Regions from separate parts of the Homo sapiens genome. Here regions 1 and 3 are each linked to region 2. Evidence: fine-mapped expression QTL. A gene starts in region 2. Each other region holds a variant in brackets. All regions are shown on one strand. Distances are from middle to middle. Region 1 has its middle 27 kb from the start of YWHAZ. Region 2 holds the start of YWHAZ (tyrosine 3-monooxygenase/tryptophan 5-monooxygenase activation protein zeta). Region 3 overlaps SLEAR (STAT1 regulated ILF2 complex interacting lncRNA).

Evidence for each region. PIP is the estimated chance that this variant, and not a neighbour inherited with it, causes the effect. A credible set is the group of variants that fine-mapping cannot tell apart.
Region 1: its variant is the best candidate, but not a certain one, in a credible set for the expression of YWHAZ in whole blood (INTERVAL, PIP 0.85).
Region 3: its variant is the best candidate, but not a certain one, in a credible set for the expression of YWHAZ in monocytes (TOPMed, PIP 0.81).

The regions. Positions count from the first base shown.
Region 1 is chr8:100,976,087-100,981,765 of GRCh38, forward strand. No RefSeq gene overlaps it. Among named protein-coding and RNA genes, the nearest start is that of YWHAZ, 27 kb to the left of the region's middle. The variant C/T (reference allele first, on the strand shown) is at 2,292.
Region 2 is chr8:100,949,509-100,955,187 of GRCh38, forward strand. YWHAZ (tyrosine 3-monooxygenase/tryptophan 5-monooxygenase activation protein zeta) reads right to left here and starts at 2,512. Exons shown (of 6, transcript NM_145690.3): 1 at 2,421-2,512. RefSeq lists enhancers at 717-776, 891-1,750, 1,377-1,456, 2,609-3,467, 3,747-3,856 and 1 more and silencers at 1,037-1,256, 1,647-2,416, 2,647-2,906, 2,927-3,606.
Region 3 is chr8:101,070,672-101,076,350 of GRCh38, forward strand. SLEAR (STAT1 regulated ILF2 complex interacting lncRNA) reads left to right here. Exons shown (of 3, transcript NR_033962.1): 3 at 4,498-5,580. Among named protein-coding and RNA genes, the nearest start is that of SLEAR, 21 kb to the left of the region's middle. The variant A/G (reference allele first, on the strand shown) is at 3,108.

The sequences.
Region 1 (5,679 bases), 27 kb after region 2:
CTCTCTCTCTGTCTTTCTTTCTTTCTTTCTTTCTTTCTTTCTTTCTTTCTTTCTTTCTTTCTTTCTTTCTTTCTTTCCTTTCTTTCTTTCTTTCTTTCTTTCTTTCTTTCTTTCTTTCTTTCTTTCTTTCTTTCTTTCTTTCTTTCTTTCTTTCCTTCTTTCTTTCTTTTTGAGATGGAGACTCACTCTTGTCGCCCAGGCTGGAGTGCAATGGCACAATCTCGGCTCACTGCAACCTCTGCCTCCCGGGTTCAAGTGATTCTCGTGCCTCAACCTCCTGAGTAGCTGGGATTACAGGCGCCCACCACCATGCCTGGCTAATTTTTGTATTTTTAGTAGAGACGGAGTTTCACCATGTTGGCCAAGCTGGTCTCAAACTCCTGACCTCAGGTGATTCCTCTGCCTCAGCCTCCCAAATTGCTGGGTGTAAGCCACTGTGCCCAACCACATCTCTCATTTTTGAATGCCAGGCTGATCTGTCTGCTTCACTTTCATGGTCTTCCAAAAAACTGTCAGGCTACCCAAAGTAGCCTGAAGTGATTATTGTCTATATGTTTTTCTGCATCATTTTGCTCCCTTTGAACTCAGTTCCAAAAAGATGGAGTGATTCGTGAAGTGAATTTCTACTTTTGCTTTGCCATAAAATAGTCCTACTATCTGTTCTTTCACTCATTCATTCATTTGTTCATCCAGTTTCCTCCCTGTCTCCACTCCCATTGCCACTGCATGTATCCTGCCCAACACAGTTCAAATGTAGTGAGAAGGTAGGTGTACTTTAGGACCTTTGTGATTCAGCCTGCCCTTACTGTTAATTATGACTTAGTATTTTTAATCATGTCACTCAAGAAACCAGATGTGACACTTAAATGTAGCTTGGATAGGATAAGGATAAGACAAGATAGAATAAGGGATAATTACTTGCTTTGCAGAGGATTCTTTTTAATTTTTAATTTTTAAAAAATAAAAGTATTGGCCAGGTTCGATGGCTTATGCCTGTAATCTCAGCACTTTAAGAGGGAAAGGTGGGTGGATCGCTTGAGCCCAGGAGTTCAAGACCAGCCTGGGCAACGTGATAAAACAACATCTCTATGAAAAATACAAAAAATTATCCAGGCGTGGTGGTGCATGCCTGTAGTCCCAGCTACCGGGGGGCACTGAGGTGGGAAGATCACCTGAGCCTGGGAGGTCGAGGCTGCAGTGACCTATGATTGCACCACTGCACTCCAACCTGGGTAATGGAGTGAGACCCTGTCTCAAAAAACATAAATAAATAAAATAAAATAAAAATTAAAACTATTCACCACAGGGTCATCTCAGAATGTCTCCATGATGCATTTAAACTCTGTGATTTACAATACTTAAATTTATACTTCATTTTCTCAAAAGCTAGCTATCAAGTTAAGTAGACATATGTCCTGAAATAATTGTTATTTATAATTATAGGTTACACATCGTGATAGCTTTACTTTTTTTGCATAAACATGGCTGAAAATACATGAAAAAAATGAAGAAACACTGAAGTACAACTTAAAAGAAGCCAAAAGACTCTCAAAATAAGGAATGATCATCAAAAACAATCTGTCACTTTACTTTGCACAAATAACAACAGAACTCAATTTTACACTAAGGATAAATAAGATGTAGTGAACATGACTTTTGAGTATGATACTTATGTAAAGTAACGGTGGAGCAGACATTATACATCCCCATTTGGGGGAAGGAGGGAACTGGCCATGTCTTTCTTCCTTTCTTTCTTTCTTTCTTTTCTTTCTCAGGGTCTCAATCTGTTCCCCTGGCTGAGTGTAGTGGCAAGATCATGGCTCACTGCAGCCTCAAGCTCCCAGGCTCAAGTGATCCTCTCACCTCAGTCTCCTGAGCAACTGGGACTACAGGTGGAAGTCACCATGCCCAGCTAACTTTTTATTTTTTGTAGAGATGGGGGTCTCACTACATTGTCCAGATTTGTCTCAAACTCCTAGACCCAAGCAATCCTCCCACCTCAGCCTTCCAAAGTGCTGGCGTGAGCCAATTTTTATATTTATTTATTTATTTATTTATTTTTCAAAATGGAGTTTCGCTCTTGTTGCCCAGGCTGGAGTGCAATGGCACGATCTCGGCTCACCGCAACCTCTGCCTCCAGGGTTCAAGTGATTCTCCTGCCTCAGCCTCCAGAGTAGCTAGGATTACAGGCATGAGCCACTATGCCCTGCTAATTTTGTATTTTTAGTAGAGACAGGGTTTCTCCATGTTGGTCAGGCTGGTCTTGAACTCCCGACCTGAGGTGATCTGCC[C/T]GCTTCAGCCTCCCTAAGTGCTGGGATTACAGGTGTGAACCACCGCACCTGGTTTACCTGGCCAATTTTTAAATGTTTTAAGTAGCTATTATTTTCACATAATTCAAAATTCAAAAGCTATAATACAATATGCAGTTAAAAGTCTCCCTTTCAGAAATAGACCCACATAAAAACAGTCACCTGATTTTTTTTTTTTTTTTTTGAGATGAAGTCTCACTGTGTCGCCTAGGCTGGAATGCAATGGTGCAATCTTGGCTCACTGCAAACTCTGCCTCCTGGGTTCAAGCGATTTTCCTGCCTCAGCCTCCTGAATAGCTGGGGTTACAGGTGCACACTACCATGCAAGGCTAATTTTTGTACTTTTAGTAGAGACTAGGTTTTGCCATGTTGACCAGCTGGTCTTGAAATCCTGACCTCAAGTGATCTGCCTGCTTTGGCCTCCCAAAGTGCTGGGATTACAGGCTTGAGCCACTGCACCCGGCAAGTCAACTGATTTTTAACAAAGGAGCAAAGACAATACAGTGGAGAAAAGAGAGTCTTTTCAATAAGAGTGTTGGAACAACTGGGCATCCATGTGCAAAAAAAAAAGAAAAAGAATCTAGACACAGACTTTATACCTTTTACAAAAATTAGTTCAAAGTGAATCACACACCTAAATGTAAACTAAAATAGTATAAAACTCCTAGAAGATAAGAAAGGAGGAAATCGAAATTTCCTCTAAATCTAAAATCCATTTGGGGGAAGGAGGGAACTGGCCATGTCTTTCTTCCTTGGGTTTGGCAATGACCTTTCAGATATGACATCAAAGGCATGATCCATGAAGAAAAAATTGATAAGCTGGATGTTATTAAAAATCTCTGCCCTGTGAAAAGCACTGTTAAGAGAATAAAAAGCCACAGACTTGGAAAAAAGTTGCAAAAGACATTATCTGATAAGGAACTTTTATCCAAAATGTACTCTTAAAGCTCAACAATAAAAAAACAAACAACTGGCAGGGTGCAGTGGCTCATGCCCGTAATCCCAGCACTTTGGGAGGCCGAAGCAGGTGGATCACCTGAGGTCGGGAGTTCAAGACCAGCCTGACCAACATGGCGAAACCCTGTCTCTACTAAAAATACAAAAATTAGCCGAGCATGGTGGAGGGCGCCTGTAATCCCAGCTACTCTACTCAGGAGGCTGAGGCAGGAGAATCGCTTGAACCCGGAAGGCAGAGGTTACAGTGAGCTAAGATCATGCCACTGCACTCCAGCCTGGGCAAAAAGAGTGAGACTCTGTCAAAAAAACAAAACAAAACAAAACAAACCTGACTATAAAATGGACTAAAGACCTTAACAGAAACTTCACCAAAGAAGGTATACAGATGGCAAATAAGCATTATGAAAGGATACTCCACATCATGTGTCATCAGGGAAATGCCAATTAAAATAACAATGAGATCTCACTATATACCTATTAGAATGGCCAAAGTCCAGAACCCTGACAAAACTAAAGGACCAAGATGTCCTTTGATAGGTGAAATTGATTGATAGATAAACTGTGGTCCATTGAGACAATGGAATATTATACAGTATTAAAGAGAAATGAGCTATCAGCCATGAAGAGAAGTGGAAGAAACTTAAACGTGTATTTCTCTTTAGGGAAGACTTTTTTTTTATTGTCTCCTGTATCCTTGCACCTGGGAATGGTGCCTAGTGCTAGGTAGGTGCTTAATAAATATTTGTCAAGTAGGGCATGCTGGCTCATGCCTGTAATCCAAGCACTTTGGGAGGACAAGGTGGGAGAATTGCTGAAGCCCAGGAGTTCTATACCAGCCTGGGCAACAGAGGGAGACATCTGTGTATGGGTTGTTGTGTAAACATAAACGTTCAACTCTTTTGGTAAATACTAAGGAGTGTGATTGCCGGATTGTATAAGAGTATGTTTAGTTTTTAGCTGGATGTGGTGGCATGTGCCTGTAGTCCTAGCTACTTGGGAGGCTGGGCTGGGAGGATTATTTGAGCCCAAGAGGTTTCCTGAACAAGGTAGAAACCATATGACTCTCTTGAGAAAGCTTTTGGGCCAGAGGGAACAGGAAATGTAAAGGCATATTCTAGGAAGACTTGTTTCTTTGACTGATCTACTGTCAGGGTAACTTCTGTTCCTTTTCCAAAGAAAGACTCAAGGGAGAAATCACCTTCTCAGTGTTGTATTTAATAAGAGGTTAAACGTGAGTTGGTCATGGTGCCATCTTTTTTCATACCTAGCAACAATCTGTATTAATTGGACCATTTACTTTTAAGAAAGGATTATTTTGGCTGGGCGCGGTGGCTCATGCCTGTAATCCCAGAAGTTTAGGGTGCCAGGGCGGGTGGATCACAAGGTCAGGAGTTCAAGACCAACTTGGCTAAAATGGTGAAACCCCATCTCTACTAAATATACAAAAATTAGCTGGGTGTGGTGGCGGGCGCCTGTAATCCCAGCTACTCGGTAGGGTGAGGCAGGAGAATCGCTTGAACCTGGGAGGCGGAGGTTGTGGTGAGCCGATATTGTGCCACTGCACTCCAGCCTGGGTGACAGAGTGAGACTCTATCTCAAAAAAAAAAAAAAGAAAAAAAGGATTATTTTATGTATAAATATATTTTGCTTAACTAAGAACTTTTTTGAAAAAATAATGTACATGTTGATTGGATTTTTGTAAGCCAAATATTTTGAAAACATTGTATCATTTTTTAGCATCTCTGGACCCAGCTAGTATTGTGAGTACTTCTACTCTCTTTTCAGTGACAACCTTAGAGCAGTAGCTCTTAAGTGGGGGCAATATTGTACCCCAGGGGACATTTGGCAAATTTGGTGACATTTTTGGTTGTGACAACTTTGTTGGAGGAAGGGGTTGCTTCTGGCAGCTAGTGGGTAGAGACCAGGGATACTGCTAAACATCCTCCTACAATGAACAGGGCCACCCACCCTCCCCCACAAAATATTATGTGACCTCAAAGAAAAATAGTGCTGAGGTGGAGAAATATTGCTCTAGGATCTAAAACTTACAGAACAGAGGAGAGGACTGTGGCACATGCATCCTATCAGGTTAAAACAGAGGGTGTCAGCCAGGCATGGTGACTCATGCCTGTAATCCTAGCATGTTGGAAGGCTGAGACAGGAGGATCACTTGAGCCCAGGAGCTCAAGACCAGCCTGGGCAACATAGCAAGGCTCCTTCTCTACAAAAAATAAAAAATTAGCTGGGCACAGTGGTGAGCACCTGTAGTCCCAGCTACTCAGGAGGCTGACACCGCAGGATTGCTTAAATCCAGGAGTTTGAGGCTGCAGTGAGCTATGATCGTACTACTGCACCACTCCAGCCTGGTCAACAGAGAAAGACCCTGTCTGTAAATAAATAAATAGAGGGTGTG
Region 2 (5,679 bases):
TTGTTTTCAGATATTTTGAGTATAAATCCACCACAAAGGATCAATATCTGACCCTAATGTCTCAACTCTTTATCTTGTTATATGTCCACATGCTTTAAAAATATCCGCAAGTCATGACACTTCAACTCTTACTGTGAGTACTAGAATATATCACATTGGAAGTACTTAATTTATAAGTGTTTCCAATGTCATCGCTCCAGTTGAAATGCAGAAGTGCTGCATTTTGCTTCTAGCCATCATAATGTAATTGGATGTTACCACTCAAGCTGTCCTTTACCATGACTACCCATCTAATTCTCTTTCCCTCGCATTTTAGTTTCCTGGACCTTTTCGATTTACCTCAGCTACATTTTTCTGGAAAGATACCCTTTTGCAAGTTGCCGAACAGCACAAAGATACTAATCCACACAGTGACACCACAGAATAAATGACTTCAGAGGAAAATACACACCCTGAATGAAGTGCACTTTTAAGTTAGAAGGTGAACAGAAGAGTCCACCTTGGCAGCTGGCTCCCGAATATTAATCATCTTTTACCTTCCCAGGGAAATCCCACAATATTTTTTTAACCAAATGAGAGAACAGGTCGCCACATTTTAAACAAATAATTAACCACTTTGGATGCAAGGTACTGGCTCAATACGTAAACTATTTAACCTTTATGACGGCATTATTTTCGTCAGGTCTCTAAATTACTGATTTTTCCCTTAGGATCTCAGAAACGCTCTCTGGTTATTTCTGCTTCTAACAAAAAATGATTTAAGCCAGTACAAAGGATTCTCTCCCCAATCACTTCGGTACAAGAGGAAGTGGATAAGGTTTCTCACACAGTAACGAGTGCTCCAAGGCCTCGCCTCTACACTGCGGGCAGGACTCACCGCACCCATTTAACCCTTACCTGACTTGAGACGTCGGTTACTGTGAAACGAAAACGGGCAGACCCGGACTTTAAAGTGCAAATTCTCCGGTCCGCGTATCGCAACCACCCCCCTCCAGGCTCCGCCCAAGTCGGAGCCACGGCTCAAGTCCCCGACTCTCCTCCTTTGTCATGGCGGATCTGTGTCAGGGAGCCCAACCTACTGCAGAGTGTTAATTCCTCCCCCCGACCGGAGCCAGAGGGAGGAGCAGCCCGCGCCCCCGCCCAAGCCGTGGGGGGGGGGGAGAGATGGGGAGCGAAGCCGCCCGACCCCGGGGCAGAGACGCCACAGCAGCCCGCAGAAGCGGAACCACTACCAGCCCCGCCGCGGACACACCCCGCTCTCCCACCCAGCGCCTTCCCCGCCACCGATCAGCGCCGGTGACCGTGTACAGCGTCTCTAAGGGACCGACAGCTGCAGGTGGGGGAGGGGACGAGAGCCACACCCAGCCGAGCGGGCCACCAGCGGCTATGCTCAGGCTCACCCGCCCCCAAAGCAGGATATGCGTCCCCAAACCGAGCGCAGGGACCCTCCAGTTCTAGTCCATCAAGCACGGGAGCCGACTGCGGGCTCACCACCCTGTTCTCTACCCCGACCTGGACTTGCAGCCCCCGTCCACACCTCCCCCGCCCGTTCACAAGGAGCAAAAAAAGTCAGACCCATCCCCCACCCCCACCAGGAAAATTCAAGTCCTTCCTCCCACCGCGGAGCCCAGGAAATTCAGCTCTAGGTCCCAGGCGAGCCCCACCCCAAAACCTCACCCCGCAGTGGACTCCCCTCCCGCCGGCGCGCAGCCTCGCCCCGGTCTACCTGGCGGGCGCCGCCGCGCCAGGCCTGGGCTCCGGCCCGCTCTCGGCCAGGCCTTTCCCTCGCGCTTGGGTCCCCGAGGCCCCCGGCCCCTCCCCGCCGCGCCACCGCCTCCCGGGGTGGGGGAGGGCCGGGTCCCGCCGCCGCAGCGCCCAGCGCGGAGGCTGCGCGAGGGGGAGGGAAAGGAGGGGGCGGCCGAGGGAGAGGGGAGGGGGCGGCCTCACCTGCGCCACTGCGATGCCCGCCGCCGCCGCCGCCGAGTCATTATCTCGGGCGGAAGCGAGAAGGGCGGCGAGGGAGGGGGTGGAAGCCCGCAGAGACAAGGGTGGGGATGGATCGCGGCCGGCGGCGCCCCGGCCATGCCTCGTCCACCTTCGGGAGCCGGCGACAGGGAGATCCCCAGGGATCTCGCGTGTGGGCGCCCTACCCACCCCCGGGGGCAGGACGGGGGAGCGAGCACCGATCGGCGCCGGGGCGTCGATGCGGAAGCAAGGAGCCGGAGGCGGCCGCTAGCCGCCCTCCCGAGCCCAGCGGAAGAGGAGCCGCCGCCCGTGTCCGCTGAGGAGACTCCGCCTCAGCCCGGCGCCGCCACCGCGGGGCGAGTGGGGATGAGGGGACGGAGCGAGGACGGCTCCCACGCGTTCGGAAGGCTGGCCTGGGACAGGAAGCGAGGCGCGGCGGCGGCCGGGTTCCTCACCTGTGTCCGGAGTGGGTGGTGGCGGCGGACGGACGGGCTCAGCAGTCTCTGGGCGGCGGCGGCGGCAGCAGCGGCGAGGCTGAGACTCTGTCCCTGGATCTCGCTGCTCACAGGCTACAGCCGCTCCGCAGACACGGGGTTTCCTCCAATCACCAGCCCCGGCAGCAGGGGCACCACACGCACGATGACGTCAAACGCTGCTATGGCAACCGTTGATTGGTGCCCACAGCGATCGGGGCCCCGCGTAACCGCCGCTCCCCGGCGCTCGTCCTGCCCGCCCGCGCTGGAGGGCGAGCGGAGGCGCGCGCGTCCTCGCCCGCAGCCGCCACTCCTCCCACCCCGCTCGGCTTCCAGCTCCTCTACGCTTGTCCCGAGTGCACCTAGGGCAGGAGGCTGCTTTTTTCCTTTTCCTCCCCAACGCAAATCCCCCACTCCTCGCCTTCCCTTTGGGTCCCCAACGCCCTCTCTCTCCCTCTCCCCTGCAGCCTCTGCCGGCCCACTCTTCCTCTCAGCCGGCGGGAAGGCGTTCTCTCCCTACCCCCACCTTAGCTTTCGCTCAGCCCGTCTGCGCTTGCCCCAGTCACTCCCTCTGGAAGGGGCTCCCGTTCAGCAACATCCGGGACCTTTCACATCCCCCCACCCCTCCCCGAGGCCCGGCCCGCCCCACCCTCCGTGCTTCGCGGTAGTAACTGCCCCAGGGCCGTCCCCGGGCAGGATGACAAGGGTGGCTCGGCGGCTCCGGCATTGTGATCAGGACTTGCGGGGCGGGGGCCCCGGGGCGGGGGCAGGGCGCGGTCGCACGGCAAGGGAGGGTTGTGTGTGGTGCGCTGCCCCCCGCCCCGCCCGCCGCTCCCCTTCCCCGGCTGGGCCGACCGGGGCGCGCGGCCCCTCCCGGCCTCCCTCCCGCCGCCGCGGCTTTACCTGCTGGCTCGGGGGAAGCGGTCCTAGACCTTTTATGGCTCGGAAACGGGAGTGAGGCGTCCAGCCCCTGAGTGTGGCTGAGTGATGGGGAGGCGTTCCAATCGAGAGCGCGGGATCTGCGCTCGGTGACTGCGCGAGGGGACAATGGGTGGGCGCCGAGGTGGGGGCGAGGTGGGCCGGGCCGGGCGGAGCCGGCAGGAGGTGAGGCCTGGAAGGAGGCGCGGCCGCTTTAGGGAAGCCAGAGTTCCGAGGGGAAAGGACAGCCTTCTCGGGCGGAGGGCTGGAGCTGGTCCTGGCAGCCTTGACCCGGAGACAGGCAGTCAGGCGTGACCGCACGGACCCGTTTCTCGTAGGCTAGGTTTTCCTACCCAAATAAAGCTTTCACGTGAAGACCTCATACTGCACATGACGATCATTACCTTTTTATCTCCTAGAAGCAAGGTTTGAGGGACGTCGTAGTCCCCAGGGTTCCAGCTGGCGGTGGGAGTGGGCCACAGGCCGGGTGATGAGCCGGGACGGGAGCCCGGAAGAAGGGGAAGGAGAAAGGCGGAAATTGCAGGTGCCTGAACCGGTAGGGCCTCCGCCCAGTTGACTTCAGGAAGTTCAGAGAGAAACATTCACAGTGTGAATGATCTCTGCCCCTTCCCTCTTTAAATGTGTTCGGGCTAAGAAAAGATTAGTGCTTGGATGACCTGCAAAACCACTTGCAACAGCCATGGAGAGTGTACGGTTAGCAATGAGAGAGCTTGGAACTCTTCATTTTACTCTTGTGTAAACTCCCCATTGATTCTTCCAACGTATCTTTATTGAGCTGACCAGAGCCTCCGTTTAGCCTCATGTTCTCTACAGAATTTAGTTTCTCAGTAGTAGACACGAAATGATTGAGTCCTCGCTCTTCCAGTACATTGTCTTTCCTACATAATACAGTGGACCACAAGGCTGCTCTACAAATTACTTTTTGCCTGACATGACAGCTGGCATTTAGATAGTACAGACCAGAAAGAGGGTTTCCAGTGACCAGTTATATTTTAGTGGGTTTTTTTGTTGTTGCTTTTCACAAGTTGCCAAATCACAGACTCATGGTAGGTTAAATGGATAAACAAATTGGAGTTTTATTTCTGAGATGTTAGGGTCAACTAGCTTTGACTCCCAAGTAAATTCTTTTAGGGCGTGACTCACTTAAAATGAGTAATATTTCAAAAGCTATTTTTTTTACAGTTTTTTCGTAGGCACCAGAAATTTGACAGAGGATACTAAGTTAAACGTTTTTTTAAAATGGAAATTGATGTTTCTTTAATGTCTCAAATATATGTCTATGTAGAGTATATGCCTTTTGTTTTAGAGGAAGTTAAGGGGTTTTTCTGTATAAATATGGATTTACTTCAGGAAACAGCTAAGTTAGGCTTTTGCCTCATGCTTTAATAGCAAGGCATTTTTTAGTGCAACAATAGGCACTGTTAGGTTTTACATACTCAAGTCAATGTGTCTGCACAATAAAGATATAATGAAGCTGCAAGAAAGGAACGGGATGTTATGAAAGCCCTGAGGAAAAGATCTTTTAAGAAATAAGGAATAACCTGTGGCATACAGAGCAGAATAAATAGAACCTATGAACCCTGGGAACTTTGCTGGAGACTTTCACTAATACCCTGACCTGTATTTTCTTCAATGCGCAACTCTTACCTCACTCAAGTTGGTTAACCTCTATGTGCTTTGATAGCCACGGCAATAAAATACTGGCAACAAAAACACTTAACTCATCAGGTGATGCTGAGGATTAAACGAATATACACATACATATATTTCTTAGAGTAACCTAGCTATTATTCATTTGTAAATGGATATATCTGATTGATATCTCTAGTGTTCAAAAGATTGTAAAGATAAAATGAAACTATTTTCTTTTTGATTTTTAGGAAACTTCAGTAGCAGAAAGAAACCATATTTTTAAAGTATCTTTTAGAAATAGAAATGCCTATTTGTGTTTCTTAGTGCTGAGACATGAGTGATGAGGGTGAATATTGATTCATTCCTCTATAGGGGACTGCAATGATCTCTTCAAAGCTATACATCAATATATAATGCTATACATTAAAATGAGAAAAAGCCCAGGCACAGTGGTTCACTCTCATTATCTCAGCACTTTGGGAGGCAGGCAGATAGCTTGAGTCCACGGGTTCAAGACCAGCCTGGGCAACATGGCAAGACCCCTTCTCTACAAAAAATACAAAAAGTAGCTGGACATGGTGGCATGTGCCTGCGGTCCCAGCTACTGGGGAGGCTGAGGTGGGAGGATCATTTGAGCCCGGAAGGTAGAGGCTGCAGTTAGCTGTGATTG
Region 3 (5,679 bases), 120 kb after region 2:
AGAAAACAACAAGAAAAAAAATCTTTAGAGAAAAATGTTCTGTCTCCCCATTTTTTCCCACTTGTCCATTACCTCTCACCACTGCAATTTCTCTCTCTGCTTCCCTTTGATCCCCATGCCAGTTCACTCTGTTTAGTCATTCATTCACTCACTCATTCATTCAATCAATCAGTCAACCAGTTGGTCAGTCAACAGACATATCTCAGGCACACGTGCCAGGCATTAGTATCTATGGGTGGAGGCTGTTAAGTAAGCTGATTTTCATTTTCATTTAGTCTCAGAGTTTCCGAACAGTTCATTTCACTCCCAAAAGGAGTGCACTTGCAGTCTTCTCTCGGGGAAAATGTCTGATTATCTGAGCCAGCAAAGGCAGCTGGGATGCCCTGGAGGTTTCCTGCATCCTGCCGGGCTTGGCCAAGATGACACCAGGGGCTCTCGCCGATGCTGAGATTCCATGGTTTTGTTGTTATAATTTTTAACGTAATTGAATAGACACGAAGGAAGGACTGTGGTCCCTAAATTAGATTTTCCCCCTTAACTCCCAAGTGATCAATTCCAGTAAAGTCAAGGCCAGACAGGCTCCCTGACTCACGACTCACGCTGAGCTCTGCCTTCTCTCCAGTGTTTGACTACCTGAGAGCTGTCTAGATTGAGCTGAAGGAATTCAGAAAAGGGCAGTATGAATTCTTCAGCGTGGAGGCCGACTTTGTGGAGAGGAGGCAGGGCCTATGTCGATGCTGCTCGCTCTATTTTCAGGGCTTGGCACCATTCATCCTCAAAAAGGCTACGGGTCCTCACTCAGAATTAAAGGTAATGATTAAAAATTACGGGCAGGACAGGCCAGGTGCGGTGGCTCACGCCTCTAAGCACTATGGGAGGCCGAGGTGGGCAGATCACGAGGTCAGGAGTTCGAGACTAGCCTGGCCAATATAGTGACACCCCATCTGTATTAAAAATACAAAAATTAGCCGGGCGTGGTGGTGTGCTCCTGTAGTCCCAGCTACTTGGGAGGCCGAGGCAGAAGAATCACTTGAACCCGGGAGGCAGAGGTTGCAATGAGCCGAGATCATGCCACTGCACTCTAGCCTGGAGGACAGAGCGAGACTCCATCTCAAAAAAAAAAAAAAAAAAAAATTATGGACAGGACAAAAAGGCAGAAATCAAGCACAAGGCTAGTTTCTCATCGGAGATCCTGCAGCCTCGCTGAGTCACACCAGGCAGAAGGAAGCAGAGTTTCACTTCAGGCCACATCGGTTCGCTCTAACAGGCAGGTTTTGGCATCCCCACGAGGCGTGTCTGCACTCTGGGAACCTGCGAGAGTAAGCTCCATGCTGGCTACCCTGATAATGTGAACCCTCTGCCTGCTGCCCCAGCTGCACTGGTTGCTGGGGAAAGCCTGCGTTTTGGGTGTGCCTAGGGCCAGGGCTCAGACCATTATCTCCCTGCAGCCTTGCATGCCTTCCCTTGCCTGGCTACCATTCTCATCAGAAAAAGCAGGATTCTTGCTTTAAGTCCTGGTGATTTACATGGAGAATAATAAGTTCTGGTTTAATCATCCCTCCAAAGATGAAGAAATTCTCCACCGAGCCCACTCTTCTCTTGACTTCTGTTCAGAAATCAAGTATTAATATAAATCGAAGCTCTCTCCTTCCTCCCATGCCAGAGGCTGTTCTGCAAAGCTGCCATTCATAGGGAGAACTGGCGATGAAGTGTCTGTCAAAAGGACTGTTTTTACAATTGGGACCTGCCTGTAGTGGTGATGAGGTAATTTCTTCTTAAGCTTCTGGTATCCAAGGAGAGAAAAAAGAACAGCAAAACAAGCTCTGTTAATAAAGGTGTGAGAGTCTTTGGGTGTTTGCTGTTATTAAAGAGACCTTAAGGAAGGCTGCTTCTGAGCTAAAAGCAAACTTTTGTCAAAGGTTCATTTTAGAAGGTTCAAAAGACACCAGAGAGAGAGAGAACAAGAGGCAGGAAGAGGCAGGCACAGAGAGAGGGGATGAGAGGAAGAGAGGGAGCGGGCAGGAGAGCCACGCTGTGCTGGGAGTCACACATGCGGGCTTGGGCAGTTTGATCACTGGAAAAATGTTTTCTGTTAAGGGTTGGTGCAATGGAAGAGAGAAATCTCTCGATTTTTTTTTTTAGGATGTGCTTTTGCTGCTGCTGCTCTGTCCGCCTAGAATGCTCTTTTCTGCCCATCTTTAACCCATCTTTTCTAAATGGCTCAGTTCAAATGGCCCCTCCTCTGTGAAGCCTTCTTTGATATCCCCAGTGAGATACATAATTGTTTCACCTTCTGTAAGTCAATAGTAGTTTTTTTCTTTAAAATTTTTGTATTTATTTTTATTTTATTTAATTAATTAATTTATTTTTGACACAGAATTTTGCTCTTGTCCTCCAGGCTGGAGCGCAATGGTGCGATCTTGGCTCACTGCAACCTCTGCCTCCCAGGTTCAAGCAATTGTACCTGCTTCAGCCTCTCCAGTAGCTGGGATTACAGGCATCTGCCACCACACCCAGCTAATTTTTGTATTTTTTTTTAGCAGGGATGGGGTTTCACCATGTTGGCCAGGCTGGTCTCGAACTCCTGACCTTGGGTGATCCACCAGCCTCGGCCTCCCAAAGTTCTGGGATTATAGGCATGAGCCACCGCGCCTGGCCTATTTTTATTTTTTGAGACAGAGTCTCTCTCTGTCACCCAGGCTGGAGTGCAGTGGCATGATCTTGGCTCACTGCAACCTCCACCTCCCAGGCTCAAGAGATTCTCACGCCTCAGCCTCCTGAGTAGCTGGGACTATAGGCATGTGCCACCATACCTGGCTAATTTTTGTATTTTTAGTAGAGACAGGGTTTCACCATGTTGGCCAGGCTGGTCTTGAACTCCTGACCTCAAGTGATCCACCCGCCTCAGCCTCCAAAAGTGCTGAGATTACAGGCATGAGCCACCATGCCCGGCCCAAAATTTTTATTTTTAATTGTGGTAGAATACACATAAGATAAAATTTACCATCTTCAATGTTTCTATGTGTACATTTCAGCAGTGTTAAGTGTATCCACATTGTTGTGCAACCACCCTCCAGAACTTTCTCATCTTGCAAAACTGAAACTTT[A/G]TCCATTAAAAAACAACTCTCTATTTCCCAATCCCCTCAGTCCCTGCAACTACCATGTTATTTTCTGTCTCTTAACTACTGTAGGTACCCGGTAAGTGAAGTCATACAATAGTAGTCTTTCTGTGACTGGTTTATTGCACTTCATATGATGTCCTCAAGGTTTACCCATGTTGTAGCATGCGTCAAAATTTCTTTCCTTTTCAAGGAATAGTAATTTAATTTAATTTTTAAATGGCATTTATAACATGCTGTCTTATTTTTAAGCTATGTGTGCATATTATATCTCCCCTGTGGAATTTGAAATTCTGAGTTTCTCTCCCTTTGGAGTCCCATTGTACCTACAGCCCAGTGCTTGGCAGAGAGTTTGTGCTAAAGAACATTAGTTGAGAGCATCAAAAGACCAATGCTACCTTATTGTCTTGAGTGGGCACTCCTAGACCTCTCTCTCCTTCCATACCATACCCCCAAAAGGCTCAACAGCAATGTTTTGTTTGTTTGTTTTCTTACAGACAGGGTCTTACTCTGTCACCCGGGCTGTAAAGTAGTGGCATGATCATAGCTCATGGCAACCTTGAACTGTTGGGCTCAAGCAATCCTCCTACCTCAGCCTCCCGAAGTGCTGGGACTACAGGTGTGCACCACCACACCCAGCTAATTTTTAAAGTTTTTTGAGAGATAGGGTCTTGCTATGTTGCCCAGACTGGTCTCAAACTCCTGGTCTCAAGCAATCTTCCTGCCTCAGCCTCCCTAAGTGCTTGGATTATAGGCATGAGCCACCATGCCTGGCATCTAGGGCAATTCAACCTAGTCCATGTTGTCAAGGGGAGATGAGCACAAAGGGATTGGTATCAGCAATTTTAGGCTTGTCTTAGCCTTGAACGAGGCCCTCATCTTCTCCTGGCTTGAGCCTCTGCTTCCTTTTGGGAAACACATTTGAAACACCTTTCCTGAAACAGAAAAGCTGACCCAATCTTAAAAGAACAGAAGGCCAGGACAGAAAGAGTGAGGAGTGCAGGAGACAAGTCATGCAAGAATGGAAGCTAGTATTTAGATTTTTTATCCTGTTAACTTTCTGGATGTGTGTGTCATCCTTGTTAGTAGGCATCTTCTGATAAAGGTGGGGTTGGTAATGGGGTGGGGGTCAGGGGACTGTGGAAGTCTTGCTATTAATCATACTAAGCATCTTTTCTCACCTTCTTCCCCCAAGTCGTCCCTGTGGAAGATTTGCCTATTATGCAACTCAGGAACAATAAGGGAAGCCTGGCTAAAATTTGGCTTAGAATCTTGGAGAACTAACTGTAACTTTATGCTTGGTCTGTAATAGCTATTTTTGGAGTTACTTTAGTTAGCTTGGCTCCTAACCCTGCCCTTTCCCTTTGTTCTCCTACAGCCATTTGTAAGAGAGGATCATGGAATGAATACGGGCATTGAGTCAAGCAGTCTGTGTTCCACTGGCGGTGTGACCTGGGGCAGGCCATTTCACCTCACTGAGCCTTAGTTTCCTCACCTGTAAAATGTGAAAAATATCACCTTCCTTACCAGGCTTTTCTGAGGATTTAATGACATCATGTTCAGTGCCCAGTATGGGTGGATAATACCCAGGAGTTTCCTCCTCTTCTCCTCCTAAGTTGACTTGATGCCCCCCGCTGAAGATCATGGCTGAACTGGCTCAATTCGGATCCAGGACTCCTGGCTTTGTCTCTTCCCTAGTTGCCCACCACACCCATGGACACCCTTAGGTAGTTTATCCTTTTGGGACAACTGGATTTATTAGAAAAGGGTATTCTGGGGTGGAATAAGGCCCTTTTCAGTCCCCATGGAGCCTTTTTGGAAGATGAAGTTCTCAAACCCACAAGAGAATTCATAAGACGAGCACACCACCCACAGTTAGGTTTCCCTCTCAAGTGCTTTATCTCCACGTGGGGCAAATAGCTCTTTGTCTGCATATGTTATTGGAGCTTTTGGAGTCCAGCCTTCAGAAGAGCTCTAATTTTTGGATTCATATCAGTTTATTAGAGAAGCCTAGTTCTAAGGATTAGCAAATGGGTAGGTGCTCAGCCAGCCCAGAACAAGCAGAGCCATGACAGAAGTTTCTGGAATCTCACAGAGTCGGTGTCTTCATGGACTCAGGGGGCCTAAATCCAATAGCCTGGATTTGTCACTTTCCCTTATTCCCTTATCAAACTCTTCCCTTTTGGACATCAGAGAAGGAAAGTACTTCCTGTAAGGGGGCAATTTGCAAAGCTTCATGGAAGTGGCATTTGAGTGTGGCCTTAAAGGATGTGTAGGATTGGGAACCATAGATATTTAGAGGAAGGCATTCCTGGCAGAAGGAACAGCAGCAAAACACAGAAGTGGAAATTAGTAGCAGCATTAATGGAGAATAATTTGGGGAATAAGATATACAAATGGAATAATAAAAATAGCATTAATTAAACATTGTGGGAGTCATTCTGTAAGATGGCCCCTGGTGATCTCCGCCTCCTGTTCTTCATGCCTTATGTAACCGCTCTCCTTGAGTGTGGTCTGGAATTACTGACTCACTTTCAATGCACAGAATGTATCAGAAGTA